Linked DNA regions of Homo sapiens: regions 2, 3 and 4 are each linked to region 1. Evidence: fine-mapped expression QTL. A gene starts in region 1. Each other region holds a variant in brackets. All regions are shown on one strand. Distances are from middle to middle. Region 1 holds the start of PRDM4 (PR/SET domain 4). Region 2 overlaps ABTB3 (ankyrin repeat and BTB domain containing 3). Region 3 has its middle 8.6 kb from the start of PRDM4-AS1. Region 4 overlaps ABTB3 (ankyrin repeat and BTB domain containing 3).

Region 1 (8,210 bases):
CTGCCAGGCAGTGTCCTGCCTCAGGGCCTTTGCTCTTGACCTTCTTTCTGATTGAGATATTCTTCCTCTAGATGTTTGCATGGATCACTGTCTCCTCTCCTTTGGTTCAAATGTCACCTTTTGAGTGATGACTTCTCTGTCTACCCTATTAAAATTGCAGGCCCATCCCCAGGCATTTTCTGTCCATTTTTCCAGCCATTCTTTTTTTTAATGTTATTTATTGCTATCTGGAATATTGTGTATTTTAATTATTTATTTCTTTATTATCTATCTTCTTCCATTATAATGTAAGCTCCAGAGGAACTGGTATTTTTTGCCTGTTTTGTTTACTATATACTCCCAGTTCCTAGAGCAATGCCTGGCACAGAGTAGACACTCAACAAACATTTGTAGAATAAACTCTATGCCTCTCTGCAAATATTAAATAAAGGAGGTCAGTCCTTACATTATACATTATAATTGTATCAAACTTATGGGCAGGAATCCCAAGAATGCCAAAGAGCAGGTTTACCCACATAAAAGGTCTTTATTTCCAGATCCTCCTTACCATAAGGAATAGGAAGCAAGATTTGAAAACTTAATTAGGGTCAGTTAAAAGTAAGATACCCTGATCAGCTAAATCTGGGGCCAAGTTTACCCATTACTGTTCTCGTCTTTAGTGCTAGGAAATAATGTTTAAAGGTAATTTGCTCTCTGTGTCTATCCCTGATGTCCAGGAAAAATCTTAGTGGTTGTTATCTGGTTGTCTTCACTGATATTACCTCTAAGCTCTACCCTTGACTATACTCTCCATCATTATTTCACAGTCATACTAATACAGTCCTGTGCCATACAATGATGTTTTGGTCAACGACAGACTGGATATACAAGAGTGGTCCCATAAGATTATAATGAAGCTGCCCTATACAGGCATACCATTTTTTAATCTTTTATCTGTATTTTTACTGTACTTTTTCTATGTTTAGATATGTTTAGATACACAAATACCACGATGTTACAGTTGTCTGGAGTATTCAGTACAGTAACATGCTGTGCAGGTTTGTAGCCTAGGAGCTATAGGCCATACCATCTAGCCTAGGGGTGTAGTAGGTTAGACCATCTAGGTATATGTAAGGGCACTCTATGATGTTTGCACAACCACAGAATCACCTAAGGTTGCATTCCTCAGAACATATCCTCATTGTTCTGCCACACCGACGCTCTTCATTTCTACCTGTGTGATTGGCCAGTTTCTCCCATTTTTGTTGTTGTTGTTGTTTGAGGAAGTGTCTTGCCCTGTCGCCCAGGCCAGAGTGCAGTGGCTGTGGCCTGATCACAGCTCACTGCAGTATCAACCTCCCAGGCTCAAAGTATCCTTCTACCTCAGCCTCCCAAGTAGCTGGGACCACAGGCATGTACCATCATACCGGGCTGATTTTTGTAAAGACAAGGTTTCATCATGTTGCTCAGGCTGATCTTGAACTCCTGGACTCAAGAAATCCACCAGACTTGGCTTCCCAAAGTGCTAGGATTACCGGTGTGAGCCACTGTGTCTGGCCTTTCCATTGTCTTTATTGTCTTAACAGCACCATGGAGTCTCCTTAAAGGGGTAAGTCACCCTAAATCAGCAGTTAAGGCAATCTTTGAGCAAACATTTGCTGTACATCTCCAAGTAAATAGATATATGAGTCAATATGTGTGGCTTCAAATTATGCCAGTTTGACTTTCCCTCAGGCATCAGAAATTCATTGAATATCTAATATATGCCAGGTATAGTGCTATGTTGTATAGCATTAAATAAGATAGACATGAATCTTCTCCCCAAAATTTAAAATGTATTTGGCAAAATAGAAAATTAAACAATTAATTACAATAAAGATAGGTACTATGAGAGAGCATACAGTGGGCCTAGTCTGGGGAGTAGAGTCAGAACACTTCAATTTTTGTTAATCTTGACATAATTTTTTAATTGAATTTTTGAGGTATTTTTACATACAATAAAATTCACCAATGTCAAGTTTACTATTTGATTAATTTGGACAGATGTATACAATTGTGTAACCTCTACCACAATCAAGACCATTTTCATCACTCCTAAAAGTTCTCTTATGCCCCCACTGTAGGCAATCTCATCCCCCAACCCATTCCCAACTTCTGACAATCACTTCTCTGCTTTCTATTACTACAGTTTTGCCTTTTCTAGAATTTCTCATACCTGGACTCATAATATGTAGTCTATTGTGTCTGGTTCCTTTCACTTAGCATAATACGTCTTTGAGATCCATCCATGTATCAACAGCTTGTTCCTTTTTATTTCTGAGTATTCCACTGTATAGATACTGTACACTATCATTATTCATTTACCAGTTGATGGACATTTGGGTCATTTCCTGTTCTGGCCTATGACAGATAACGCAGCTATGGACATTGGCGTACAAGTCTTTGTACATATGTTTTTATTTTTCTTTGGTAAATACCTAAGGAGTGTGGAGAATTGGATGGTATAAGAGGTATAAGAAATTGCTGGCCAGGCATGGTTGCTCATGCCTGTAATCCCAGCACTTTGGGAGGCTAAGGCAGGTGGATCACTTGAGGTCAGGAGTTCGCAACCGGCTTGGCCAACATGGTGAAACCCCATCTCTACTAAAAATACAAAAGTTCGCCAGGCATGCTGGTGAGCACCTGTAATCCCAGCTACTGGGGAAGCTGAGGCAGGAGAATCACTTGAACCCAGCAGGCAGAGGCTGCAGTGAGCTGAGACCACAGCACAGCACTCCAGCCTGGGTGACAGTGAAACTCTGTCTAAAAAAAAAAAGAGAGAAAGAAAAAAGAAAGAAATTCTAAAATGGCTGTGGCATTTTTTTTGCATTCCCACCAACAAAATGTGAGGGTGCCAGTTGCTCCATATCTGTGCCAACACTTGTTATAGTTGGTCTTTTTAATTGAAGCCATTCTAGTAAGTGTGTAATATCACTTCATTGTGCTTTGATTTGCATTTCTTTGATACCTAATGATGCTGCACATCTTTTTGTGTGCTTAATCGCCATCCATATAGCTTCTTTGGTGAAATGGCTGTTGAAATTTTTGCCTAAGTTTTTAAATTTAATTGTCTTCTTATTATTGTGTTTAAAGGGTTCTTTATATAGTCAAGATACAAATCCTTTGTCAGATATTTGTTTTGAAAATATTTTCTCCCAGTCTCTCACTTGACTCATTTTGTTGACAGTATCTTTTCAAGATCAACCATTTTAATTTTGATGAAGTTCGATTTGTCATTTTTTTTTTTGAGATAGGGTCTCTCTCTGTCACCTGAGCTGGAGTGCAGTGGCACAATCTTAGCTCATTGCAACCTCATACTCCTGGGCACAAGCTATCCTCCTGTCTCAGCCTCCCAAGTAGCTGGGGCTACACGTGCATACCACCATGCCCAGCTAATTTTTTTTATTTTTTGTAGAGACAGGGTCTCACTTTGTTGCCCAGGATGGTCTCAAACTCCTGGGCTCAAGCGATCCTCCTACCTCAGCTTCCCAAAGTGCTGAGGAGAGAGCCACTGCACTTGCTCCAATTTTTTAATAGTTTGTGATTTTTTTGTCCTATCAAGGTCACAAAGATTTTTGCCTTTATTTTCCTCTGTAAGTATTATGGTTTTAGCTCTTACATTTATGTGACCTGATTTTTATGTTCACCTCTCAACTTAATAAAATTGTTCCAAAAGAACAGACATCCAAACCCAAACCTAGTGAAAGCATTCGGCCGGTAATAAGATACATCATCATTCTCTAGGCTCCAGATTTGAAGTGGCATTTCAGGGAATACTGTCTCTCAGTTGAGATGATGACCTTCTTGATTTAGATTTCTATTTGTTGTCAACAGAGAGCAAAACCAATGTGACCTGCCTGCCAATGTTCAGTGAAGTTTCCTCATCTGGAATGTGCTTTCCCCCCATGAGAAGTAAACGAAGGGAAACATTATGGGGGTTGACACCCCTCCCAGCTCTCGTCCAAAAGGTTGCATGTGCCTCTACCCTTTCACATTAGACTGAATTTTCAAAATTCATCAGTTCCCACTAGACTGCAGGCAGGTGAAGGTCAGGGCTTGTGCCTTGCTCTGTATCCCTAGGTTTGAGATGTAATTCAACAGACGCTTTGTGAATGACAGGAAGAATTCCTGGGTCTGCTGTTCTGCTGGTGTAAGGGAGCCACCAGGCAGTGTGGTGTAATTTCAACGTCTACTGCTCAGGAGCTTGGGACCACCTTCCTTTAAAGCCATCTCGGTACTCCTAGCGTTAGGCACAGTGCCTGGCGCGCAGTAGAGAACTGAGGGCAGAGAAAAGGGGAAGGAAATTTTGTTTAAAATCCCAAACCCCAGCATTTACGACGGGAAGCAGGGAAACTGGGCAGCCTTCAGGTGTAGCAGACGGCCGAAAATATTCAGGATAGAATCCCAATTCCTCCTGGGCAGCAGAGGCAACCCTCGGGGCCAAATCCCATACTTCGAATTTTGGGGGCTTTGTGTGGACCCATGCTTCTCTAGTAGGGGAATGTCATGAAGACGAAATCCTGAGTCTGCGGGATTTAGGGGATTCAAAACTCAATCCCTGCAGGAACAGCAGCCCTGGTCGCCTAGCAACCATGGGCCGATCGCTCGGCGCTCGATTCTACCCGGCCGGATGGAGACGCGGAACTCCCGGCCGAGCCTCTCGCGGCCAGTGCCTCTGCCGTGCGCACGCGCGGAGGGGCCTGGGCTGGGAGAAGGGCGACGCGGTGCGCGGGCGCCGCTTGCGGGCCGCGGCGGGGAGGGCGCACGCACGAGGGGCGGAGCGGCGGGCGCTGAGAGTGGCTGAGGATCCGGAAACGCGCCGCAGAGGGTGCGGCCCAGAGGAGGCCGCGGGCCGGGAAGGGCCGGGCGGGACGGGAAACGTTAGGGCAGCGGCCCCCGGGGTGAGGGGGCCGAGCGGACGGGCAGGGCCCCGAGGCGAACTCTGCCCGGATGAGGAACAAAGCAGTGGGGCAGGCGCGTGCGCCCCCAGCGCAGCTGGCAGGTGGGCTGCGCGCGGGCCCGGCCGGAGCGGGGCGGGGCGCGGCGGCCCGGCCTGCGGGCCGCGGGCGGGCTAATCCACAGCCCTTGGGTGGCGGTGTCGGCAGCGCCTGGGGCTTTCGGGTAGCTGGGATGGGGGCTGCGACCTTGTTGTGGTTTTGGTGACCGCTCTTGTCCCCACTCCCCCAGGTTGGGCAGCCCCCTTCCCGAAGCTTCTGGACGGAAGGCCCCAGGTGTTCCCCGAGATGCCCCAACCCGTGGCGGGGTGCACGGCCACCGGCCCTCGGGAGAAGTTGGGCGGCCCCGGGCGACCCCGGGGACGAGTGGCCGCGTCGGTGCAGCGGTTGTGAGCAAGATGTGGTAGCACGTGACCCTGGAACGCAAACCCTGATGCCTGTTCCCCACCACCCGAGCGCTCCTTTCTCTGATATTTGGCCCCAAGCCGATGCATCACAGGTGAGTAGGGAGGTGGGCTTCAGCACTGGTGACATCGTTGGAAACTCTGGCGAGTGAGTGTCCAGGGTCAGTGCCGTTGTTTTTGGTGCCATTGAGAAGGTTACAGGTGTGATTTGCAAAGGAAACAAATCCAGAAACTAGTGTTGGGTGGAATGTAATCTCATGCATCCTAATTTACTCCACATGTGGAAAGTTGTTCCCAGTAGCCACACGTTTATTGTTGGCTTGTTGACACCTTTTCCTGTGTCTTTCAGTTATTTGAGCGTTTAATATATTTTTCCGGATTCCAACGTGTATTGTTATCTTATTATGCTTCACCTTGAGTTTTGCTGGTATGGCAGGGACGATAGTGAGGGAATTAAGTTCTTAATTCTGCAAGCTTCATGCTGATGTTTAAGTACAGAAGCAGGCCACAGAAATTGTTGCATTTGGCTGTTTTTTCAAGGCCCTTTCAAAGGCCGTATGTTTAGAATAAGGAAGATAAGGCACAAATTCATTGAAATTATTGAAGCCCCACTGCATTTTTCAAAGTGGCTGCATTTCAGTTAGTTTATTATATTTTATGCGAAGAAAAAGGTGTAAAATCAGCAACTGGCAGATGGTTGCATAGGTCAGTTAGAAACACACACATAAACTGTAGAACTGTGTAGGAAATTATTTTACCCTAAATGAGTAGGGAAGATAGAGCTTAGTATCTTGATTCTTGCCTTCTTCCGGGATTGCTTCTTAGAATCTCATAGGAGAAAGAAAATGAGAATAGAACTGCATTTTAGAATGAGAAAGTCTTATGAGGATCATATTGTACATTCCCTTCATCTGCCTTCTCTCTGTGGGATACTCATTACCTTTGGTTTATGGCTGCTGAGGTCATCACGTTTTAGTGACTCACAACAAAGCAGAAATCTGCTGAGCCTCTCGCATTAAACTCTGGTTTGAACTGGTTTGAGAAGGCCTAGGAGTCAACCTAGAAACACCATGCTGATTTTTATCTTGAAATTAAATAAATATTCAGGAATTTTCAGAATGAGAGTTGAAGGTGCAGACTTGTAGTTGTACTTTTAAAAAAATATTGTAACCAATTTGTTAAGTAGGCTGTTACAGCTGTAGTGATTGTAGTGTTTTAATTATGGTTGTAGCTATAAAGAGTTAGGGAAAAGTCTGTTTTAAACCAACTCAAGCCCAGCAACTTTCAAAATTAAGGTAGATATGTTTTCTTTAGGCTACAGGGATTTTTTGCTTTTTTTGTTTTTAAGACACAGTCTCACTCTGTCACCCCAGCTGGCGTGTAGAGGTACAGGCAGAGCTCACTGTAGCCCCGACCTCCCCACTTCAGCCTCCCCTGTAGTTGGAACCACAAGCACGAACCACCATGCCTGGCTAAGTTAAAAAAAATGTTTAGTAGAGACAGGGGTCTCACTGTGTTGCCTAGGGACGTCTCCAAGTCCTGGGCTCAAGCGATCCTTCTGCCTTGGCCTCCCAAAGTGTGGGATTACAGGTGTAAATCACCACACCTGGGCTGCTTTATTTTATAGCATAATAAAAACTGTTATTAGCATGCTGTTCTTCATAAGGTGTACCTCATTTGCCAGGTGCTTCTAGCTGTCTTTCTGGTAAGGGTGATGAGTTTGCATAGCTCCATCCGATAAAATAAGAAAATTCAGAATGTCTGTTCTATACAAGGTACTAGGTTGGCCTTTTACATTTTATTGATGTCTTAGAGCTTAGTTTTATGGGATCCATGGCCAGGGATAAGGGTGAAACCTAATAATGCAAGAAACAGGTCTATGTGGAACTTTAAATATACGCCACAATATAAGTAGATAGGCCCTAATGTATTGCAACTGTGTAAAAGGCAATATAGTTCTTTTATTGTAATTGTCTTTTTCTTACTATAGTTAAGAGCTTTGGTTTCTTAAATTAGTTCTGAATTTAAATCCCAGCTCTCCTTACTGGTTATGTGATTCTGGGTTAAGTTTCCTAGCATCATTGAATCTTAAGTTTCCTCATCTTTAAAGTGGGATTAAGAATAATACCTACCTCCAGCCTGGGCAACATAGGGAGACCCCATCTCTGCAAAATAAAAACAAATTAGCCAGGCATGGTGGCACTTGCCTGTGGTCCCAGCTGCTTGGGGGCTGAGGTGGGAAGATCTCATGAGCCTAGGAGGTAGAGGCAGCAGTCAGCTGTGATCACGCCACTGCACTCCAGCTTGCAGCTACTGAGCAAGACCCTGTCTCAAAAACAAAAAAAAAAAAAAAAAAAAAAAGAAGATTAAGAGAGATAGTTACATATAAATCACTTAGCCCAATACATAGCACATGGTAAGGGAGCCATAAATTTTAGCTATTATTATTTTCAGGTTGATTGATAAAATGGCATTGCCATTTTTCAGAATTAAAAACCTATTTAGATTTGATTTCACTGCTAAGGAATATGTAACCTCATTTGATTCCTCTTCTCTGCTTCACCCCCTCCCATACGCAGAGAATAAAGCCCAGTGTAAGGACTGGAGGTCATTAGAGAGCCCCTTTTGGGTAACCTGTTGGCTAGCCTAGTGGTTCTGTAATGTTTATAGTATGGCAGTCTCTAAATTATGATATAAGAACTAATACTTTTTGATAACAACCTTCAGTGCTGTTTTATTCAAATCAGTATTACTCTTATTCGAAAGACATTTGTAATGGCAGTGCAAGATGGTTTGCATAGAAAAGGTGATTCCTAGGTTCTTCACCTTGCCA
Region 2 (8,000 bases), 220 kb after region 1:
AAGGCTCAGGAAGCCCTTTGCGTCCCGTTCCTGCATACTGCCTCCCTCGCCCTGTGACACACCCTCTATGTTGTGGCCAACACTGCTTTAACTGTAGTCACAAGAATGGGCTATGCTCTCTATTGCCCCTGAGCCTTGTACATATGCTATTCCCTCTGTCCAGAACATTCTCTCCCTCTTCTTCTCCAGGCTAACTCCTACTGATCATCCAGGTATCTGCTTATAAATTAATTCCTCTAGGAAACCCCCTCTAGAACCACCCTGCCCTTACTTGGGTTATCACACTGTACTTTTCGTGTTTTTTTTCCTTTTTTTTTTTTTTTTTTTTGAGATGGAGTCTTGCTCTGTTGCCCAGGCTGGAGTGCAGTGGCATGATCTCCACTCACTGCAACTTCTGCCTTCCGGGTTCAATCGATTCTCCTGCCTCCTCAGCCTCTTGAGTAGCTGGGACTACAGGTGCCTGCCACCACAACCGGTTAATTTTCGTAATTTTAGTAGAGATGAGTTTTCACCATGTTGGCCAGGCTGCTCTTGGACTCCTAACCTCAGGTGATCTGCCTGCCTCTGCCTCCCAAAGTGCTGGGATTACAGGCATAAGCCACCACGCTCTGCCCTATAAAAGTAAATTTGATGACAACAAAACAGTGTACAGTTCACCCTTGAACAATGCAGGCTGGAACTACTTGGATCCACTTATACATGGATTTTCTTCCACCTCTGCCACCCATCATACAACAAGACCAACTCCTCCTTTTCCTTCTCCTCCTGGGCCTACTCAACATGAAGATGACAAGGATGATGACCTTTATGATGATCTGCTTCCACTTAATGAATAGTAAGTACATTTTCTCTTCCTTATGGTTTCCTTAATAATTTTTTCTTTTCTCAAGCTTACTTATGGTAAGAATATCATATATAAGAATATAACATAAAATACACGTTAATGGACTGTTTATGTTACCAGTAAGGCTTCTGGTCAACAGTGGGATATTAGTAGTAAGCTTTTGGGGAGTCAAAAGTTACACAGAGATTTTTGACTGCATAGGGGTTCAGTGCCCCTAAGTCCCAGATTGTTCAAGGATCAAATGTAATTAATTTCTAGCTGAATTCTGGCCCCGTTTTCCTTTTTATACGTAACAGGTGTTACAGAAGTGTTAGGGGCTGATATCAAATGGAGCCTTTCTTTTTAAAGTAATTAAGATTCAAATGAATGTAAAAGAATCACTCTATAATCAATATTATTTAATGCACTTGCCCTGTCCTACTTACGATCATCTCATGCACACCAGAATATGTTGCGTACTTTGGGAGACAGCCGCCTAAGATATCTGTGATGGTTAATTTTTTTTTTTTTTGAGACAGAGTTTCGCTCTGTTGCCTAGACTGGAGTGCAGTGGTGCGATCTCGGCTCACTGCAACCCCTGCCTCCCGGGTTCAAGCAATTCTCCTGCCTCAGCCTCCTGAGTAGCTGGGATTACAGGCATGCACCACCACTCCCAGCTAATTTTTTTGTATTTTTAGTAGAGATGGGGTTTCACCATGTTGGCCAGGCTGGCCTCGAACTCCAGACCGCAGGTGATCCGCCCGCCTTGGCCTCCCAAAGTACTGGGATTACAGGTGTGACCCACCGCGCCTGGCCAGTGATGGTTAATTTTATGTGTCAACTTGGCCAGGCTATGGTGCCCAGTTGTTTGATCAAACACTAGTCTAGATGTTGCTATAAAGAAGGTTTTTTTTTTTTCTTTCCAACTTTTATTTTAGGTTCGGGGGTACACATACAGGTTTGTAACATGAGTAAATTGCATGTCGCAGGAGTGTGGTGTACAGATTATTTTGTCACCAGGTAAACAGCATAGTACCCAACAGGTAGTTTTTCAGTCTTCATGCCCCCTCATCCCCTACCCTCAGGTAGGCCCTAGTGTCTATTGTTCCCTTATGAAGGTATTTTTTAGATGTGATTAACATTTAAATCAATAGACTTTGAGAAAAGCAGATTACCTCCCACAGTGTGGGTGAGCCTCATCAATTAATTGAAGGCTTTAAGAGAAAAGACTGAAGTTCTCCGAAGAGGAAAGCATTCCGTCTCCAGACTGCAACAACTTTTACTAGAATCTCCAGCCTGCTGGCCTGCACTGCAAAATTTTGGACTTGCCAGCTCCCACAATCACATGAGCCAATTCCTTAAAATAAATGACTTTCTCAGTCTATCTCGCTACAGAGAAAGAGAGAGAGAGAGAAATCCTGTTGGTTCTGTTTTTCTGGAGAATGCTGACTAATACGATATCTGACATGATGCTAGCCCCTGTTGGGGCTCCCCCATTCCCTCTCATTGTCCAGCTGAAACCAGTCCTTTAGATCTCACCCCTTCTCCACCATCCTGCTGTACCTTTCAACGTGACACATTTACCTAACATCCAAATTCGAGTAAGTGAGGCAAAGTGAGAGGCAGGAGTTTCTCCTCCGAAGGCTTAGGACTCATCTCCTGGCTTCCTGTTTCCTGTCTGAGGGAGGGGCCACTACTTCAAAAGATGACTGACAAGAGGACTGTTCACCAGCTTTAGGGGGGTTGATTATGGGAATGAGGTTCACAGAGCTCTTGATTGATTGATTGATTATAGATGCAGCCCTAAAGTCCTTCTCAAGACAAGATTCCAAGCAGCTACTATTTCTTTTTCTTTTTTAAGAGACACTCTCTCACCCAGGCTGGAGTGCAGCAGGGTGATCATAGCTCACTGCAGCCTGGGCTCAAGCGATCCTCCCACTTAAGCCTCCCAAGTAGCTGGAACTACAGTCACAAGCCACCATGCCCGGCTATTTATTAATTTTTATTTTTTTAATTTTTTGTAGTGGAGATGGAGTCTTGCTTTCATACCCAGCCTGGTCTCGAACTTCTGGCCTCAAGTGATCCTCCTGCCTCAGCCTCCCAAAGTACTGGGATTATATGAGTGAGCCACAGCACCCAGCCACAAGCAGCCCCTATTTCTAATAGGAGTTGTCGAAATAAAGGAAAGCTCTATGTTATCTAAGTCCTAAGGCTTCGTCAGGACAGCCTAACTAGACTACGATCCACTGAGCTCAGTGCCTGGCCAACAGATCAGGGCCTTGTGCAGATGGCAGCAAGGGGTATGATGGTTAATTTTAGGAGTCGACTTGACTGGATTAAAGGACACCTAGATAGCCGGTAATGCATTATTTCTGGGTGTGTCTGTGAGAGTATTTTCAGAAGAGACTGGCATTTGAATCAGTGGGCTGAGTGAGGAAGACCTGTCCTCACCCAGTGTGGGCAGGCACCATCCAAGTGGCCGAGGCCTGGATAGAACAAAAAGGCACAGGAAAGGTAAATTTTCTCTTTCTCTCTCTTCTGGAGCTGGAACACTCTTCTTCTCTTGCCCTTCCACCTCCTGCCATATGAGGATATGGCAACAAGCCACCATCTTGGAGGCAGAGAGAACCAGACCACCTGACCTTGACCTGGCTGGCATCTTGATCTTGAACTTCCCAGCCTCCAGAACTATAAGAAAATACATTTCTGTTCTTTATAAATCCTCCAGTCTCAGGAGTTTTGTTAGAGCAGCACAAATAGACTAACGCAGGGGGTTATATCCCTACATCTCTCTGCATCTTCACATACCCAGCCCTGAGCCTGCCTCTCCACTCTCCATTTCCCACAGCTGGAAAATTCATCCAAGAAATTTTTAAAAGCATCAAGGAAGGACATTCTCTTTTAGAGGCAGATCACAGGGAAGACATAAGGGCAGCTGCAGATGGAAAACGTGGGGAACTACTGCTGAAAGTTAAGCAGGGATCAGAGGAAAGAGTTCAAATCTCAGCTCCAGCCTGTGTAAACACAGGCGAGTCACTTAACCTCTCAGGTGAGGAATAATCTTCACCTCTCAGGTGGTTATGAGGGTTAAGTG[C/T]AAAATGTGTAAATGCCTGGCATACTTGGCATTGAATAAGCAGTTCTCCTGGGCTCATGGGCTGCCTGCTCTTCCTCCTTTCTGAGTGGTGAGACCAGGATGCTGGGTACATGGGACAGAGAGGGGTAGTCCTGCCAGCATTCTGAACGCTGAGCACCTGATTTGCTGCTTCATGCTGGGGTTGACTTTTTTAGGACTCTACACTGCAAAGCTGCTCATTCCTGGGGTCCCTTTGGGGTGCACTGAGATCCTTAGCTGCTACTGCTTCCTTTTTCTCTCCATTCTCATGTTTTAGAGATTGCACTCCCTGGGAGGAAGAAAAAAAAAGGAAGCTAAGCTGGGTGCCTGCCTCCGGGCATTCACATCACTTTAGCCTAGTAAGGGGAAGCTCCAACCACTGGTCAGAATAAGAGCTCCCAATCAGTGAAAGTTGGGAAGGGACCTAGAAGAAAACTCAAAGATAGAGGCCTGGGGTGGGATCGGGCACTGAGACAATGTTTTTAATTTTCCAGTGAGGACAGTGACCTGGAGTAGAGGAAGAAGAGACAGCAGAGGTAGAAGCCCCAATATGCTGAGCACCTACCATGTCTCCGGGCATTTAGACACGTTTTCTATTTGATTTATATAAGAGCCACACAAGGTGAGCATTATTATATCAATTTCAGAGATGGGAAAATTGAGGGAGGAGGCAACTGGCCCAGGTGTCACTCAGCAAGTGGCAGGCTGTGACTCCAACCTGGAGTTGGACACACAATGTGGGCTTGTGTTCTTTGTCACTATGACACAGTGCCTCCAAAAAGGCACAAATCTAGAACCCAGTTTTGAGTGTGGCCCTTAAAAAGTCTGACGAAGAGTCTGAGGCTCAAATCCCAAACATCTCCCAAAGTCTGTGCCGTCACAGACTCCAGAGTGGGGCCCACTTTGTGGGGTGGGGGCTCAGGAATTTGGTTGGCCTCTGCTGATGGAGCAGAGCTTCCAGCCTGGGGTTCTCAGAGTCTACCCCATTGGTGTCTGTCTGGAGGACAGCGGGGTGGCTGATGGTCAACCTGCATAAATGACCAAGGAGGCTGTAAGAAATAAATCACCAAGCAGGAAGAGCCTGGAGGGGTAGAAGAAGCAACTCAACAACAACGGAGGCCTGGAAGGAAGCTGGTGCTGAAATCAACAGAATCCTGGTCTCTCTGATCAGACTTCCTGCCTGGCCCCTGGCAGAGCTCAAAGAGCTGCTCCCTGAAAGCTATGAAAAGTTGGAGGAGCCCAGACAGCTGAGCTCTGGGATCACCAGAGGAGGCTAAGGTGGATGACAGCAAACCAACAGCTAGTGCTTCCTGTGTGCAGGATAATTCTTAGCACTTTAGACCTGTTACACCCATTTAAGTGCCACATGACCCAATGGGGCTGGTCCTGCTAGCATATGCATCTCACAAATGAGGAAAGTGAGGCACAGAGAACTAATAAGACTGAAATTACACTGCCACTGAGTCCAATAACTGGCCTGGAAGCTGCTGCCATCTGGCTCTCCCCCACACCACGCTGCCCTGTGAAGGCAGGGGTCTTCATGCCCTGGGGGCAGCACAGCCTCCGGAGATCCCAAGCTGCTTCTGCATCCCTAGGGTTTTGGCAGAACAGGTCAGCACCCCTTCCACTGGCATCTGTTGGTAGTGGCATTCTCGGTGGGCATAGAGTGGGGAAGAGCTGCATAGACCATGGAGGCAGGGTTGATGGCAGTAGCTTTGGAAAGGCCTGGAGACTTCCCAGTCGTGCCCTTGGCTGGGAGGTCAGAGTCTTCCAAGGCAGCCCCAGCCATAGGCTCATGCAGGCTCACAGGAGGCCAAGGCCGCAGGCTGTGGGCAGCCCTAAGCTGGGCCACAGCCTGGCAGGAAGTGGTGGCTACACATCAGATGCCACCTGGGGACTCTGAAAAACTGCGGGACGAACTTGCAGAGGCTGGAATTCCTGTGAATCTGCATTTGGAGGGCAGAGTCTGAGAAGCTCTGAGGTTGGCCAGATCTGAGGTAGACTTGGCCTCCACTGTCCCCAAAGAGAAGTAGTTTGAAGGGTGTGGGCTGCCCAGTAACTGAGCCATGTTGACACTCACTGTCCTCTGGGAGGAAGGCTGTGCTGCAGACAGCCTGGAGTGAGCAAGGGAGGGTGGAGGAAAAGCCAAGGGGGAAGGCTGCCATCAGGAAGACCTGAGAAGCAATTCTATTTCTTTTTTTTTCCTTTTCAGTTGACACATAAGAATTGCACATATTTATGGGGTACACAGTGATATTTTGATACATGTATATAATGTATGATGATCAAATCAGGGTAATTACCATATCCATCACCTCAAACATTTATCATGTCTTTGTGCTTGGAACATTCAAAATCCTCTCTTCTAGCTTTCTGAACTTATACATTATTGTTAACTATATTCACCCTACAGTGGAATAGAACATTAGAACTTGGTTCTTGATTTGGCTGTAAGTTTGTATCCATAACCAACCTCTTCCTATCCTCTAATCCCCGCTACTCTTCCAGGCTTCTAATGTCTATAATGTTAGTCTCTACTTCTATGGGCTCAATTTTTTTTTTTAAGATTCCATATACAAAGAAGATCATGTGGTATTTATCTTTCTGTGCCTGACTTATTTTATTTAATATATTGTTCTCCAGTTTCATCCATGTCGCCATAAATGACAGGATTTCATTTTTAATGGCTGAGTGGTATTCCATTGTATAAATATACACATTTTCTTTATCCATTCATCTGTTGATGAATTCATCATAGGTTGATCCACATCTTGGTTTTATAAATAGTGTTACAATAAACATGAGGGTGCAGACATGTCTTGGATATACTAATTTTCTTTCCTTTGGATAAATGCCCAGTAGTGGAATTGTTGGATCATATGGCAGTTCTATTTTTAGTTTTTGGAGGATCCTCCACACTGTTCTTCATAATGACTGTACTAATTTACATTCCCACTAATAGTGTGTGAGGATTCCCTTTGCTCTACGTCCTTGCCAGTATTTGTTATTTTTTCTTTTTGATAACAGCCACTCTAACTGGGGTGAGATATCTCAGTGTGGTTTTGATTTGCATTTCCTCGATGATTACTGATGTTAAGCACTTAAAAATATACTTGTTGGCTACTTGTATGTCTTCTTTTGAGAAATGTCTATTTAGATCTTTTGCACACTTTAAAATCAGATTTTTTTTTCTCTTTGAGGTTGAGTTCCTTGTCTATTACGGACATTAGTCCTTTGTCAGGTGAATAGTTTGCAACTATTTTCTCCCACTCCATAGGCTGTCTCTTCAATTTGTTAATTGTTTCCTTTGATGCACAGAAGCTTTTTCATTTGATATAGGCTCATTTATCTATTTTTGGTTTTGTTGCCTGTACTTTTGAAGTCTTACCTCTAAAATCTTTGCCTAGACCAATGTCCTGAAGCATTTCCCCTATGTTTTCTTCTAGGATTTTTACATTTCAGGCCTTGCATTTAAGTCTTTAATCCATTTTGAGTTGATTTTTGTATATGGTGAGAGATAGGGATCTGGTTTCATTCTTCTGGATATGGATATCCAGTTTCCCCAGCACCACTTATTGAAAAGAGTGTCCTTTCCCTAATATATGTTCTTGGTGCCTTTGTTGAAAATCAGTTGGCTGGAAATATGGATTTATTTCTGGGTTCTCTATTCTGTTCCATTGGTCTATGTGTCTGTTTTTATACCAATACCATGCTGTTTTGGTTATTATTGCTTAGTATACTTTGAAGTCAAGTAGTATGATGCCTCCTCTTTTTGCTTAGGATTGTTTTGGCTATTTAGGGTTTTTTGTATTTCCATATAAACCTTAAGGTGTTTTTTTCGATTTCTTTGAAGAATGTCATTGGTGTTTTGATAAGGATTGCACTGACTGTAGATTTCTTGGGTAGGATGGTAATTTTCCAATATTAATTATTCCAATCCATAAGCATGGAATGTCTTTCCATTTTCTGTGTTCAATTCTTTCATCAGTGTTTTGTAGTTTTCATTGTAGAGATCTTTCACTTCATTGGTTAAATTTATCCCTAGGCAATTTTTTTGTAGCTATT
Region 3 (8,210 bases), 34 kb after region 1:
AAGTTATGTAAGCTCTCTATGCCTCTTCCCTTAACTGTAAATGGAGAGTATTAAGAGCGCCGCTTCATTATACTGTTTAGATGTTAAGTTCATACGTGTCAGTGGCTCCCACAGTGCTCAACATAAACAGTAGCTGATATTCTTTAGTTTCCCATTAGTCTACATTTTTCATTTTAACATAGGTTTCTACACTAAAAAAAATTGACATATAGAATATCCAAGAAGCTCTAGATTTTAGTAATATAAATAAAACTGGAATAATTTGAGTTTTCAAGGCCAAAGCCTATAAACTAGTTCAGAGTATTCTTGCAGCTCACTGTATGCTTGGCATTTCCTTCTCAAAAAGGTCAGTGGCTCATAATCCTGGCATTTTTGTTGTGCTGAGATTCTCAGAGGGCAAAGAGGTAACAGGAAGTAGAGTCTTCGTCAGCCTTTTCACGCTTGACCTGTGTCCCCGCTTTCTAGTAAACACTCCTTTACCTGTGTCTCAAGAAGCATAAACATGCCAGAGGCTGTCAGCACCTCATCAAGTATGTAAACTTGATGATCTGATCACCAAACTTGGAGGCACACACTAAGGAATGACATATCTCCATATACACAAGTGATTATGGTCTGTTACAGGTGAACACACCGCCCCCTGCCAACACCACCAGATTCATATGGTGAAGTCCTAACCTCCAGTAATCTCAAAATGTGATTGTAGTTGGAGATACGGTTTTTAAAGAAGGAATTAAGTTAAAATGAAGTCCTTAAGTTAGGACCTAACCCAATATGACTGGTGTTCTTAGAAAAAGAAAATTTGGACAAAGCCTTATACAGAGGGAAGATGATGTGAAAACAGGGAGAAGACATTTCCAAGCCCAAGGAAAGAGGCCTGGAACAGGTCCTTCCCTCACAGCCCTCTGAACAGTCCTGCCATTGCTTTGATCTCAGACTTCCAGCCTCCAGAACTGGGAAACAATACATTTCTGTTTAGTCTTCCCGGTCCATGGCAATTTGTTGTGGCAGCCCTGGCAAACTAAACAGTCTAACCAGATATACGTTCTTGATAATGATTGCTTAAAGGGGAGCAGCTTCCAGTATAGTGACTTCAGTTTAACCCCAGCTTTACAGATTAGCATGAGCAATATAAAGGCAGGCACCATTTCTAGTGGTGTATATTGCCGCCAGCAAATTTCCCTACTACTGAAAGGGGTGAAACCACTCCTTAACAGCTTTTTTGCTCCTTAGCTTTTCTTGCATATGCACACTGAGGATCATTAGGCACTCAGGCCTGTGTAGTCCTCAGACAAGGAGAGTGGTCTTTTCAAAAACCATTTATTAAGTGCTGGTACACTTTAAGGCATTGTAGGGGGAACAGAAAAATAACTAGGGCTCTGCTCCTGCCTTTGGATACAGGTGATCTGCCTGCCTCCGCTTTCCAAAGTGCTGGGATTACAGGCATGCGCCACCGTGCCTGGCCCAGGCTACAAGTCTTTAAAGGAAATCACATAAACTCTAAACTATTCCATTTAGACAATGCATATTTATATCCACAAGTTAGGGAGCACATGGAAAGCATGCTTTGTTCTTTGTGTTTTCTGCCCCCAGCACCTGCCTCCTCACCCTGCAGCACATCTTGTGCTGCTACATACTTGCTGAGGCTCAGGCTGGGCATGGGCTTTGGGGTTGGGCAAGCATCAAGATCAGTTTAGGGCCAGATTTGGGAAAGAAAAATCACCTAAGGTGAAAGTCACTTACTTTGGGAAATTTTACTTCTTGAATGATCTGTTAATTGGTTAATAGACACAACTTCTGGCCCCTCTTAGCTAGCACTGCCTAGGACCTTGTGACACATTTGCTTGCAAATATGCTTTCTAGTGGTAGTACATTTTAATTTATAGTTTTACTCCTCATAGGGCATTATAAAAGTAGGCTTTACCCTCAGTTGTCTAGATGTTGAAAATGAAGTTCAGAAAAATTACACTTTTCACACCTGTAATCCCAGCACTTTGGGAGGCAGGTGGATCACTTGAAGTCAGGAGTTCCAGACCAGCCTGGCCAACATGGTGAAACCCTGTCTCTACTAAAAATACAAAAATTAGCTGGGCATGGTGGTGGGAGCCTGTAAATTCCAGCTACTCAGGAGGCTGAGGCAGGAGAATCACTTGAACCCAGCAGGCGGAGGTTGCAATGAGCCAAGATTGTGACACTGCACTCCAGCCTGGGCAACAAAGCAAGGCTCTATCTCAAAAAAAACAAAAAAAAAAAACCAGTTTGTTGCATTTCATATTCACTGATTGGCTGCCTGGGAGCACTTTTTAAAAATGCCTGTATTTCTCTTCCAGGGCTCTCTTCCATGTTAATCTACGTGAAACATTATTTAGACGCTGCTGTTGTTCTGACACACCTCATTTCAGGATGCATCACACTGCTGCTTACACTTAGTTGCATATTTGCACTGGGGTTGTGGAATCTGTTTTTTATAAGCATAGAACACCTTTGTGGGTCATTGCTCTTAGTTGATTAGAGCCAACTACCACTCAGTTATGACAAGTGAATTATTCAAAAGCATGTGAGATGACATAATATTCTGTTAAGGGACTTATTCAAGATGCCTGACCCAGATGTGCTGTAGCAAAAAGAAAGGGAGCCAGGCTACGTTGCATCTAAAATTCCCACCGTGCCAGTGTGCAAATAGTATGTTTCATAGCAAGAGAAAAGCAGGATGGTCTATTCATCCAGCATTGTTTGTTTCTTTGGGAAAGGAACACGTTAGACTTTAAGGGCTGGAGAAGTGTGTATTTAAGGAAAAGCAATGGCTTGTGACCAGGAAATTTGATTTTAAGCTGAGAAGTAACCATTCGAAAGAAAGGAAGAGAACTCGAGTAACTTAAGTAAGTTTATTATAAGTTAAGTGCTTTAACTTCACAATAACAACCTTGTAGGGTAGGTTTTAATATCTTTGTTTTACCGAGGCCACAGAATGTCCCAGAAGTTAATGCAGTTACTGAAGTGTGAGATTGGAAAGTAAGGCCTCCTAGCTCTGCATTCGATGCTTTTTCTACTGTATTCTGTGGCATAGAGTTATTAGCATGATTACGGAAAAGTCATCTAGCTTGGGTGGCTCAGTACTCTCATTTTGGTGGTTGATAATAATCAAGTTTTTTAAATTGATTAGTAAGACTTGAGAAATGCCCTGAGACTATGTATGTATGGTTGCTTGCTATGAATGCTGGGAAAAGACATTCTGAATATATCAAGTGGTAAGGCATCCCAGTTAGCTAGATTTTTGTAACACAAAAAGCAAAATCCTATTACTTCATACTAAATCTAACAAGGGGTTGGGCACGGTGGCTCACACCTGTAATCCCAGCAATTTGGGAGGCCGAGGCGGGTGGATTTCTTGAGGCCAGGATTTCAAGATCGGCTTGGCCAACATGGTGAAACCCCATCTCTACTAAAAATACAAAAATTAGCCAGGTGTGGTGGCATATGCCTGTAATCCAGCTAGTCAGGAGGCTGAGGCAGGAGAATCGCTGAAGCCCAGGAAGTGGAGGCTCCAGTGAGCCAAGACCACTCCACTGCACTCCAGTCTGGGCAAGGCAACGAGACTGCGTTTGAAAAAGAAAAAAAAAAATCTAATGAGGGAGACTACTAAATAAGTAATTACAAAATTTTAAAAGGAGTAAGACAAATTACATTCTAACACAGCAGGGGTATCTTATGCAGGCTACAGAGATGAGGGGAGGCTTCTCAAAGGAAATGACACTTTTTTTTTAAATTATACTTTTAAGTTCTAGGGTACATGTGCACAACGTGCAGGTTTGTTACATATGTATACATGTGCCATGTTGGTGTGCTGCACCCATTAACTTGTCATTTACATTAGGTATATCTACTAATGCTATCCCTCCCCCCTCCCCCCACCCCATGACAGGCCCTGGTGTGTGATGTTCCCCTTCCTGTGTCCAAGTGTTCTCATTGTTCAGTTCCCATCTATGAGTGAGAACATGCAGTGTTTGGTTTTCTGTCCTTGTGATAGTTTGCTGAGAATGATGATTTGCATCTTCATCCATGTCCCTACAAAGGACAGGAACTCACCCTTTTTTATGGCTGCATAGTATTCCATGGTGTATATGTGCCACATTTTCTTAATCTAGTCTATCATTGATGGACATTTGGGTTGGTTCCAAGTCTTTGCTATTGTGAATAGTGCTGCAATAAACATACGTGTGCATGTGTCTTTATAGCAGCATGATTTATAATCCTTTGGGTATATACCCAGTAATGGGATGGCTGGGTCAAATGGTATTTTTAGTTCTAGATCCTTGAGGAATCACCACACTGTCTTCCACAATGGTTGAACTAGTTTACAGTCCCACCAACAGTGTAAAAGTGTTCCTATTTCTCCACATCCTGTCCAGCACCTGTTGTTTCCTGACGTTTTAATGATCACCATTCTCACTGGTGTGAGATGGTATCTCATTGTGGTTTTGATTTGCATTTCTCTGATGGCCAGTGATGATATTTTTTCATGTGTTTGTTGGCTGCATAAATGTCTTCTTTTTAGAAGTGTCTGTTCATATCCTTTGCCCACTTGTTGATGGGGTTGTTTGTTTTTTTCTTGTAAATTTGTTTGAGTTCATTGTAGAGTCTGGATATTAGCCCTTTGTCAGATGAGTAGATTGCAGAAACTTTTTCCCATTCTGTAGGTTGCCTGTTCACTCTGATGGTAGTTTCTTTTGCTGTGCAAAAGCTCTTTAGTTTAATTAGATCCCATTTGCCAATTTTGGCTTTTGTTGCCATTGCTTTTGGTGTTTTAGACATGAAGTCCTTGCCCATGCCTATGTCCTGAATGGTATTGCCTAGGTTTTATTCTAGGATTTTTGTGGTTTTATGTCTAACATTTAAGTCTTTAATCCATCTGGAATTAATTTTTGTATAAGCTGTAAGGAAGGGACCCAGTTTCAGCTTTCTACATATGGCTAGCTAGTTTTCCCAGCACCATTTATTAAATAGGGAATCCTTTCCCCATTTCTTGTTTTTGTCAGGTTTGTCAAAGATCAGATGGTTGTAGATGTGTGGTATTATTTCTGAGGGCTCTGT[T/C]CTGTTCCATTGGTCTATATCTCTGTTTTGGTGTCAGTACCATGCTGTTTTGGTTACTGTAGCCTTGTAGTATAGTTTGAAGTCAGGTAGCATGATGCCTCCACCTTTGTTCTTTTGGCTTAGGATTGACTTGGCAATGTGGGCTCTTTTTTGGTTCTATAGGAACTTTAAAGTAGTTGTTTCCAATTCTGTGAAGAAAGTCATTGGTAGCTTGATGGGGATGGCATTGAATCTATAAATTACCTTGGGCAGTAACGCCGTGTTCACGATATTGATTCTTCCTATCCTTGAGCATGGAATGTTCTTCCATTTGTTTGTGTCCTCTTTTATTTCGTTGAGCAGTGGTTTGTAGTTCTCCTTGAAGAGGTCCTTCACATCCCTTGTAAGTTGGATTCCTAGGTATTTTATTCTCTTTGAAGCAGCTGTGAATGGGAGTTCACTCATGATTTGGCTCTCTGTCTATTATTGGTGTATAAGAATGCTTGTGATTTTTGCACATTGATTTTGTATCCTGAGACTTTGCTGAAGTTGCTTATCAGCTTAAGGAGATTCTGGGCTGAGACAGTGGGGTTTTCTAGATATACAATCATGTCATCTGCAAACAGGGACAATTTGACTTCCTCTTTTCCTAATTGAATACCCTTTATTTCTTTCTCCTGCCTGATTGCCCTGGCCAGAACTTCCAACACTGTGTTGAATAGGAGTGGTGAGAGAGGGCATCCCTGTCTTGTGCCAGTTTTCAAAGGGAGTGCTTCCAGTTTTTGCCCATTCAGTATGATATTGTCTGTGGGTTTGTCATAAATAGCTCTTATTATTTTGAGATATGTCCCATCAATACCTAATTTACTGAGAGTTTTTAGCATGAAGGGCTATTGAATTTTGTCAAAGGCCTTTTCTGCATCTATTGAGATAATCATGTGGTTTTTGTCTTTGGTTCTGTTTATATGCTGGATTACGTTTATTGATTTGCGTATGTTGAACCAGCCTTGCATCCCAGGGATGAAGCCCACTTGATCATGGTGGATAAGCTTTTCGATGTGCTACTGGATTCGGTTTGCCAGTATTTTATTGAGGATTTTTGCATCGATGTTCTTCAGGGATATTGGTCTAAAATTCTCTTTTTTTGTTGTGTCTCTGCCAGGCTTTGGTATCAGGATGATGCTGGCCTCATAAAATGAGTTAGGGAGGATTCCCTCTTTTTCTATTGATTGGAATAGTTTCAGAAGAATGGTACCAGCTCCTCCTTGTACCTCTGGTAGAAATCGGCTGTGAATCCGTCTGGTCCTGGACTTTTTTTGGTTGGTAAGCTATTAATTATTGCCTCAATTTCAGAGCCTGTTACTGGTCTATTCAGAGATTCAACTTCTTCCTGGTTTAGTCTTGGGAGGGTGTATGTGTCGAGGAATTTATCCATTTCTTCTAGATTTTCTAGTTTATTTGCATAGACGTGTTTATAGTATTCTCTGATGGTAGTTTGTATTTCTGTGGGATCGGTGGTGATATCCCCTTTATCATTTTTTATTGCGTCTATTTGATTCTTCTCTCTTTTCTTCTTTATTAGTCTTGCTAGCGGTCTATCAATTTTGTTGATCTTTTCAAAAAACCAGCTCCTGGATTCATTGATTTTCTGAAGGGTTTTTTGTGTCTCTATCTCCTTCAGTTCTGCTCTGATCTTAGTTATTTCTTGCCTTCTGCTAGCTTTTGAATGTGTTTGCTCTTGCTTCTCTAGTTCTTTTAATTGTGATGTTAGGGTGTCAATTTTAGATCTTTCCTGCTTTCTGTTTTGGGCATTTAGTGCTATAAATTTCCCTCTACACACTGCTTTAAATGCTATAAATTTCCCTCTATACACTGCTTTAAATGTGTCCCAGAGATTCTGGTATGTTGTGTCTTTGTTCTCATTGGTTTCAAAGAACATCTTTATTTCTGCCTTCATTTCATTATGTACCCAGTAGTCATTCAGGAGCAGGTTGTTCAGTTTCCATGTAGTTGAGCGGTTTTGAGTGAGTTTCTTAATCCTGAGTTCTAGTTTGATTGCACTGTGGTCTGAGAGACAGTTTGTTATAATTTCTGTTCTTTTACATTTGCTGAAGAGTGCTTTACTTCCAACTATGTGGTCAATTTTAGAATAAGTGTGATGTGGTGCTGCGAAGAATGTATATTCTGTTGATTTGGGGTGGAGAGTTCTGCAGATGTCTGTTAGGTCCGCTTGGTGCAGAGCTGAGTTCAATTCCTGGCTATCCTTGTTAACTTTCTGTCTCATTGATCTGTCTAATGTTGACAGTGGGGTGTTAAAATCTCCCATTATTATTGTGTGGGAGTCTAAGTCTCTTTGTAGGTCTCTAAGGACTTGCTTTATGAATCTGGGTGCTCCTGTATTGGGTGCATATATATTTATGATAGTTAGCTCTTCTTGTTGAATTGATCCCTTTACCATTATGTAATGACCTTCTTTGTCTCTTTTGATCTTTGTTGGTTTAAAGTCTGTTTTATCAGGGACTAGGATTGCAACCCCTGTCTTTTTTTTGTTTTCCATTTGCTTGGTAGATCTTCCTCCATCCCTTTATTTTGAGCCTATCTGTGTCTCTGCACGTGAGATGGGTCTCCTGAATACAGCACACTGATGGGTCTTGACTCTATCCAATTTGCCGGTCTGTGTCTTTTAATTGGAGCATTTAGCCCATTTACATTTAAGGTTAATATTGTTATGTGTGAATTTGATCATGTCATTATGATGTTATCTGGTTATTTTGCTCGTTAGTTGATGCAGTTTCTTCCTAGCAGGGATGGTCTTTACAATTTGGCATGTTTTTGCAGTGGCTGGTACCAGTTCCTTTCCATGTTTCATGCTTCCTTCAGGAGCTCTTGTAGGGCAGGCCTGGTGGTGACAGAATCTCTCAGCATTGGCTTGTCTGTAAAGGATTTTATTTCTCCTTCACTTATGAAGCTTAGTTTGGCTGGTTATGAAATTCTGGGTTGAAAATTCTTTTCTTTAAGAATGTTGAATATTGGCCCCTACTCTCTTCTGGCTTATAGAGTTTCTGCCAAGAGTTCCGCTGTTAGTCTGAGGGGCTTCCCTTTGTGGGTAACCCAACCTTTCTCTCTGGCTGCCCTTAACA
Region 4 (8,000 bases), 190 kb after region 1:
GGACCTGTGGACCTATCTGTGGGGCAGAGTCCCAAGGATTTTCTGCCTGAATCAGCCTGCTTCTTAGGCTGTCTCCCTCATTCTCCCATTCTCTCCATCACCTAAACTGAATCAGGCACTCAATAAACACACGCTGACTTGAAATTGAATTGGATTCTACTGTCTCAGGTGAGCAGAACTTATTTTTGTCACAGTGTCTCCATTATTGTTGGAAACCAGCCCCAAATGCTCAGAGAACTCTCTGGGTTAAGTTTCAGAGGCGCCTCCCCTCATCATTCCTTTGCTCAGTGGCCCCAGAGCACAGTCCACAACCCTGAGTCCCTGGGGGGCTGCATCTCCATCACAGAACTGCCCTTGGGCTGCTGCCTTTCATGTTAGATGCCAAGCGAGGCCCAGGGCACACGGCCAATGCCTGGTGAATGCCAAAGAATAGCAAAAAAAAAAAAAAAAAAAAAAAAAAAAAAAGAAGAAGAAAGAAAAAGGCTCTGCTGCCTTCAAAAATAACACCTTTACCAAGACAGCTGGCAAGCTCCAGAATAAGACACCTTGAACCTCAGGATTCCAGCCTCTCCTGGAATTTTCTATGTACCTATTCTCTCCTTTCAACATTGCCTTCTTCTTGTCACTCTGACCTTAATAGTATATAAGCTCATGAATTCTTTGCCAGTAACTCATTTAAAAATCTTCTTATCTTGTCTACTCAGAGGGGAAAAAATAGCATTATTTGTATGTTTTCTTTGGAGGAATTGGAGATGGGAAAGAATTCGAGGGCTCTGAGTCAAGGAGAGGGTGGAGAATGCTGAAGAAAAAATCTTGCATTCTCTTTATACTTTTTTTTTTTAAGAGAACAATGTTCCACTGGTTGTCTCCTTTATTCTGAAGTTGTTTGAAGTGACTAAAACCCAAAAGAAGCTTGAGGAGCTCATGGTTTAGTGAAGTGGTTCTTAGACTTTGTTGAACATCAGAAGCACATGAAGAACTTGTTAAAATGGCAACAGCCATGATTTTACATCCAGAGTTTGGCTCCCATAAGTCTTGGGGTAGGGCCTGGGCATCTGCATTTTAAATAAGCTCCCCTGGAAATTCTGCAGCAAGCCAGGTTTGTTAATCCCCAACCACGTGGCCTGAGATGAGCAGAGGAGGGAGATGGTCCACTCAAACAGGACAGTGGCCATCTACATCTTCACTGTGGTGTTAGGAGAGGTATATAGGGTGCGACTAGAGGCTCTGGAAGGAAAGAGAAAGCCTTGATGGGCTTCCTGCAGAGTCAAGCCAGCATGTCAGCTCAGGAAGGCTGTTAAGCCCAGATTCAAGTAGGAGATGGAGAACATACACGGACATGGCCTTTCTCTGAAATGGTGAAGAGAGAGCTGGTGATGAGGCTGACCACCCAGGATGGAAAAGGAGTTTGGCTGGGGAGTCTGGGTACTAGAAAGAATGTTACAGGATGTGAGAAAGGCCTGGTTTGGGATTTTGCAGAACTGAATCCCAGCCCTGGATCTGCCCGTAACTCACTGGAGGGCTCCTCTGGCCCATCAACGTTTTGGCCTTCAGTGTCTTCACCTGTAAAGTGGGGTGGGTTTGCATCAGATGATCTATTTCAGGGCTCAGCAAACCTTTTCTGTAAAAGGCTAACTAGTAAGTATGTTAGGCTTTGTGGGCCATAAGGTCAGTCTCTGTTGCTACTACTCAACTCTGACATTGCAGTGAGAACAGCCACAGATGATACACAAATGAAGGAGCTTGGCTGGGTTCCAATACAACTTTACTTACAAATGCAGATGGTAGGTCAGAGGTGGCTACCATTAGCCTGTTCAGTTCTTCCCAATGCTAATATTCTTCGATTCTATTGGAAAAGCCAGTTGCTGGGGCCTTAGGAAGTACCTAGTGTGTAGACTAGGGAAGATGGAGAGAAGACCATGAAGGTCCTAGTGATAGGGACAGAAAGTTTTGGGGAGATCAGAAGATAGGACCCTCCCACAAAGAGGTCATGGTTGGATGCTTGAGCCACAGGCATATCCAGAGGTAGTAGATTAAAAGATATCAAGAGTTGCTGAGGGTGAGGTTGGAGACGTGGTAAAGAGTGCGGAGTAGGTATGGAACCTAGGAGTGAGGACATCCATGGGCTCAGGAATTCATCTCACATGCTAAACTGCCTTGTTCCAGGGTTCAGAGAAACTACCTGTTGTTATGGGCTGAACCGTGTTCCCCCAAATTCCTATGTTGCAGCCCTAACCCCCAGTACTCAGCATATGCCTGTATTTGGAGAGAGAGCCTTTGAAGAGGTAATGAAGTTAAAATGAGGCCATTAGAGTGGCCCTAATCCAGTCTGACTGATGTCCTTAGAAGAAGAGGAGATCAGGACACGAGAGACACCAGGGTTGTGTGTGCACAGTGGGGCAAGAGGGTGGCCATGCACGCCAAGAAGAGCGGCCTTGGAGGAAGACAACCCTGCCAGCAGCTTGATCTGGGGCTTCCAGCCTCCAGAATGGGGAGAAAATCAATTTCTGTTGTTTAAGCCACCTAGTCCATGGCATTTTGTTATGGCAGCCCCAGCAAACTAATATACTTGAGGTTTGACATTTTGAAGAAAACTTGGCCTGGAGTGGGAGGAGCCAAGGTAGTGTTCTAGGTCAGTACCCCAAACCAAGAAATCCTATTTTGAGGTTTCAGTCTTCAGTAGAGGGGCTTCAACTGGAAGCTCAAACTCTTTAGAAAGCTGATGGTGTTTGGTTTGTTTCCTTCAACCTAGTGCAGTAGGGGATGGGGTCAAAGCCATTTGAAGATTGTACAGTGCTGTGGTTAGGAGCACGGGCTTTGGAGAGAGACTGATTGGAACTGGATTCCAGCTCTACCTTCTAGCAGTGGGAGCTTGAACAAGATATTTCAAGTGTCATGCCTCAGTTCTCTCATTGGGAAAATAGGGATAATAATAGCACCCACCTCAGAGGGTATGGTTGGCTGAAGAATGCCTCCCACCCCTAACCGAAGATGTCCACATCCTAATCCCTAGAACCTGTGAAAGCTGCCTTAACTGGCTAAATGGACCTTGCACGTGTGATTAAGTTCAGGAGCCTCCAGGTGGGCCCTAAATGCAATCACAAGGGTCTTTATCAAAGGAAGGCAAGAAGGTCAAAGGAAAAAGGAAAAGAAGCAGTAGAAGAGGTTGGAGTAATGAGAGGAAGGGGCCATGAGCTAGGTAATGCAGGCAGTCTCTAGAAGCTGGAAAAGACAAGGAAATAGATTCTTTCCCAGAGCCTCTAGGAAGAACCAACCCTGCCTATACCTTGACTTTAGCCCAGTGAGGCTGATTTTAGACTTCTGGCTGCCAGAACTGTTAAGAGAAGAATTTTGTGTTGTTTTAAGCGTCCGTGTGTGGTAATTTTTTACAGCAGTCACAGGGAACAAATAAACAGGGTTATTGGAAGAATTGAACGGGATGATGTACTTAGCGTGGCGCCTGGTACCGAGAAAGTGCTCAATAAATGGGGGCTGTTATTATCATCATCACCAACATTGTTTTTAGCATCACTCATCTTCTCCCTGCCAGGTGCAGGAAAAGGCCTTGCTACACAGAGCGACATAGAGGGATGTTCCTGCCTTTTCTTTACAAATAGATGCAAACCTCTGCAGATGCTATAGCCTTCCCTTTGTAAACTGTGTGGCCCTGACTTTTCATCTTTGTTATTTGTTGAGTGTTTCTTAGACTGGAAAGGAATTTCGATATTTGTGGTTTAGGAAGCTCATAATTCCAGAGACACAGAGAGTGAAGGAAAAGCAGCTAAATTGATAGTAGACCATATTCGGTGCTGGTTTCTATAGCAATGCTCATTGTAACATCACTGCATCTGTGGGCACCAAAGCCGGGAAGATGGTAGAGGTAAGAGGTGGCCACAGCTGGTTACTATAGTGACAGCCCTACTGTGCAAGGCATAGTCCAACTGCCCACGAGGGTGGTTTCTGCAGATGGCCTGGAGTGGGAGGAGCCAAGGTAGTGTTCTAGGTCAGTGCTTCTTAAATGTTTCTGTGCCTTTGAATCACCTGGGATCTTGTTAAAATGCAGATCCTGATTCAGAGAGTCTGGGGCACAGCCTGAGATTCTGCATTTCTTTCTTTCTCTTTCTTCCTTTCTTTTTCTTTTTTATAGATGGAGTCCCGCTCTGTTGCGCAGTGATCTTGGTTCACTGCAACCTCTGCCTCCTGGGTTCAAGCAATTCTCCTGCCTCAGCCTCCCAAGTAGCTGAGATCACAGGCATGTGCCACCACACCCAGCTAATTTTGTATTTTTAGTAGAGACAGGGTTTCACTATGTTGGCCAGGCTGGTCTCGAACTCCTGACCTCAGGTCATCCACCTGCCTTGGCCTCCCAAAGAGCTGGGATTAGAGGAATGAGCCACCGCACCCAGCTGAGATTCTGCATTTCTAATGCGCTCCCAGGTGATAATGCAGCTGCTGGTCTATGGAACATATTTTGAGTAACCATGACCTACAGAGAATCATGACTCAAGTCAGAAACCAGGGAAGGTGAATTTTGTTATTGTGTTTAAGTTGGGGAGGAAAAGGGGTCACAGGTCCAGGAGACAATGGAATAGAAGGAGTTGAGCTGGTGCATCAGATTGGCCGAGCCTGGTTCATGAGCCTTTGCCAAGCTGCAAGTGAGGCTGGGAAAAGCTAGTGCCTGGAGGCTTCAGTTTTTATCATAAAGGTGGGTTCTGTCTCCACCTGGATTCTCATTTAGTCTTCCAACAACCCTGTGAAGCCCTTCAGTCTTGGGGAGTTTGTTCTGAACCAAGCATTGTCTGCAGACTATTTTGTATTCATAGCAGTATTTAGTATCATCCTGGGAATATAAACACTCGAGAAAGACACCTTGT[G/A]ATGTTAATTTTATGTATCTACTTGGCTAGGTCACATTATCCAGATATTTAGTCAAACAGTAGTCTGGACATTACTCTGAATTTTTAGATGAGATTAACCTTTAAATCAGTAGGCTTTGAGTAAAGCAGATTATCATCCATAACATGGGTGGGCCTCATCCGAACAGTTGGAGGCGTCAAGAGAAAAAAACTGATTTTTCCCAGAAGAGAGAATTCTGCCAGTCGAATACATTTGAACTTGAGCTGCAACCTCAACTCTTCTCTGGGTCTCCAGCCTGCTGACCTATCCTGCAGATTTTGAACTTGCCAGTATCCACAATCTTGTAAGCCAATTCCTTAAATCTGTGTTGTGTATATAAAGCATATTAGCCAGGGCTCTCCAGAGAAACAAAACCAGTAATATATGTGTGTGTTGATCAATCTGTCTATCTGTCTATCTGTCCACTCACCATCTGTTCCATCTATCCATCCATCCATCCATCCATCCATCCATCCATCCATCCATCCATCGATTCATCCACCCAGCCACCCATCCATTCATTCATCCACCCACACATCCATCCATCCATCCGTCCAATCTCCCCTTCTTTCCGCCAACATGTACACACATCCTATGGGTTCTGTTCCTCTGGAGAAACCTGACTGACACACATCTGCAATGGGATTTAGTTGCATGCAGGGACATAGCCTTCTCTTTCTACTGCTGATTCTTCCTCCCTCACCATCATGCACAATTGGCTGAGGTAGGGAGGAAGCTCAGGTGCTAGATCCCATGGAGGATGACTTCCCCACACCCTGATTATGCACAATACACCACTTGGGAACCATGAAACAGAGGCCTCATGGATAGAGTCAGTGCTTTTAGGGAAAAGTAAGCCATTTTGTACCAAAGTACAAGTCTTTTGCAGCGTGAAGGTCAGTGCCACTTATGAGTGATTACATAAATTGTCTGAAATGGGGCAAATGGCAAAGGGCACAGGTGAGGAGGTGATTTCTACAGATAGTGCCCAGACGCACGTGACTGACCAAGGAAGCATCTCTGGCTTTCCAGCTGCACATCCTAAGAAAGGTGACTTAGAGGGCTGAGGGCTGCAAGCAGTACTGAGGACAGGCAGGTCTAGGCAGAGCGAGCAAAAATAATACATGAATAACAACAACCTTGACCCTGCCTGCAAACAGCTACACATCCTCTAGGCTTCATTTCCCTTCCCATCCCAGAGAAGGATTCCTTTTCTCTTCCCTGCTTCTGCTTCCCTGGGGACTTGGCTCAATCATTTATCTCCCTGCAGTCCCATGACTTCAACCACCATCTCCTCTCTGTATGTTTCCCATCGGTATTTAGGCATTCAACATGCTCCAGGCTCTCACAGTTTAAATAGGATGTGAGCAAAACTGTAAGAATTCATGGTCCTCCTGGAGCATCAGCCTGGATGCTCCATCTAGTTCCCCATCTTCAGGGAGTCTCCAGATCACCTAGGGAGCTGGTGAAAATGGATATTCCCGGGTCTGTGCCCGTTTGCTTGGTGTGTTAGTTTCCTATGGCTGCTGTAGCAAAAGACCACAAACTTGGTGGCTTGAAACAACAATCTGGTGGCCATATTTTGGACTTCTGGCCTCTCACAGCTCTGGAGGCCAGAAGTCCAAAATCAAGGTGTTTGCAGGCCCTCCCCTCTCTCATGGAGATCTAGGAGAGAGTCCATTCCTTGCCCCTCTCAGCTTTTGGTGGTAGCTAGCATTCCTTGGCTTGTGGCTAGTCACTCCAGTCTTTATCTCTGTCTTGCATTACTTTCTCCTTCTTTGTGTCAAGCATCCTTCTCTCTTATAAGGATACTTGTGATGAGATGTAGGGCCCACTCAGATAATCTAGGAGAATCTCATGTCAACATTAATGGAATCACATAGGTAAAGACTGTTTTTCTTTATAAAGTAGCATTTTCAAGTTCTGCGCATTAGGACTTGATCATTTTGGAGCTATTTGTGATTTAGCCTGCTGCACTTGGCATCTGCATCTTATCTCTTATTCTCTGTAGGTATTTTCTGATGCCGACCAAAGGCTGAGACCATCAGGTCTAGAGAGTGCCAGCTCTGAACTGCAGGATGCTCAGCAAGCTCAGTGTCCATCACGTACCATGTGGGGACCAGCCAGCCAGCCTGTGCCTCTCTCCGCTAGCTGCTGCCTATGCCACAGACCAGCCTGGTTAAGGAAGGCAGAGGCCTCTGTGGCAGGAACCTGATCTCAAATGGGGTTGGATGATGATGGGGCCCAGGATATAAATGGCCCTGGGAGGGGAGCCGCAGCCTCAGAAGTGGAGAAGCCACAGACTCTGTGTGAGGCTGCCGCGAAACACGCCTTGCAGGCTTGGGCACAAAAAATAAACATCCAGGAAGCAGCAGAGGCTGTACAGCTTCATATCCTGGGAGAGGTGGCTCTAGAAGCCTAAAAGGGCAGGGACGGGCCTGGTCAGGGCCAAGAGGCAAAAGCCAGGGTGGGCTCCTAGGGGCCATGTGGGCCTGCTTCTGCCTCCAAAAACAAAATCATAAAAAGTAGCAAAAGGCAGCACACAGCCTTACAAAGGAAACCCACTACACCTTCACATCTGGTGCTGATGTGGTAGTAAGGGTATGTACTCTGAAGATGTTTGTGCCCAGGCTTCATCATTTGCTAGCTGTGGGACCTTGGGCAAACTACTCCCCATCTCTGTGCCTCAGTTTCCTCATATGTGAAACAGGGGAATTGTAAGGCCACACCTCAGCATTGTTGTGAAGATTAAGGGAGAGAATGTCAGTAAGGTGCTTAGCACATAGTAAATGCTCAACAAACTTAGCTACTATTGAGGGTTTGTTATATGTGAAGCAAGCTCTGAGCATTTTTCTGATGTTAGCTCATTTGATAATGACAAGAGCCCTGAAGTAAGTGCTATTATTAGATAATAAAATAGAGGTACAGAGAGGTTATCTAACTTACCTAAGGACACACAGTTATAAACAGCAGTGCCAGGATATACTGCAGGCAGCTGGGCTCAGAGCCAGGCCTATTAGCCATTCACTATATCATTTCCAGGCAGAGGCTAACAGCATGTGTACAGAGGCCCAGAGGAAGCCTGGGGCCTGGTGCTTTGGACCTCA

What was found. PIP is the estimated chance that this variant, and not a neighbour inherited with it, causes the effect.
Region 2: its variant is fine-mapped to the expression of PRDM4 in whole blood (TOPMed, PIP above 0.99).
Region 3: its variant is fine-mapped to the expression of PRDM4 in whole blood (INTERVAL, PIP 0.93).
Region 4: its variant is fine-mapped to the expression of PRDM4 in left ventricle (GTEx, PIP above 0.99). The same link has a PIP of 0.9 or more in stomach and visceral fat.

Annotation. Positions count from the first base shown.
Region 1 is chr12:107,757,767-107,765,976 of GRCh38, reverse strand. PRDM4 (PR/SET domain 4) reads left to right here and starts at 4,840. Exons shown (of 12, transcript NM_012406.4): 1 at 4,840-5,020; 2 at 5,206-5,472. The coding sequence starts at 5,462. PRDM4-AS1 (PRDM4 antisense RNA 1) reads right to left here. Exons shown (of 5, transcript NR_120474.1): 4 at 7,585-7,702; 5 at 6,009-6,205. RefSeq lists silencers at 4,550-5,129, 5,180-5,289.
Region 2 is chr12:107,535,667-107,543,666 of GRCh38, reverse strand. The region is part of intron 2 of ABTB3 (ankyrin repeat and BTB domain containing 3); the gene reads right to left. Among named protein-coding and RNA genes, the nearest start is that of PWP1, 150 kb to the left of the region's middle. RefSeq lists an enhancer at 5,163-5,727. The variant C/T (reference allele first, on the strand shown) is at 3,918.
Region 3 is chr12:107,723,809-107,732,018 of GRCh38, reverse strand. No RefSeq gene overlaps it. Among named protein-coding and RNA genes, the nearest start is that of PRDM4-AS1, 8.6 kb to the left of the region's middle. The variant T/C (reference allele first, on the strand shown) is at 5,092.
Region 4 is chr12:107,570,849-107,578,848 of GRCh38, reverse strand. The region is part of intron 3 of ABTB3 (ankyrin repeat and BTB domain containing 3); the gene reads right to left. Among named protein-coding and RNA genes, the nearest start is that of PWP1, 110 kb to the left of the region's middle. The variant G/A (reference allele first, on the strand shown) is at 4,875.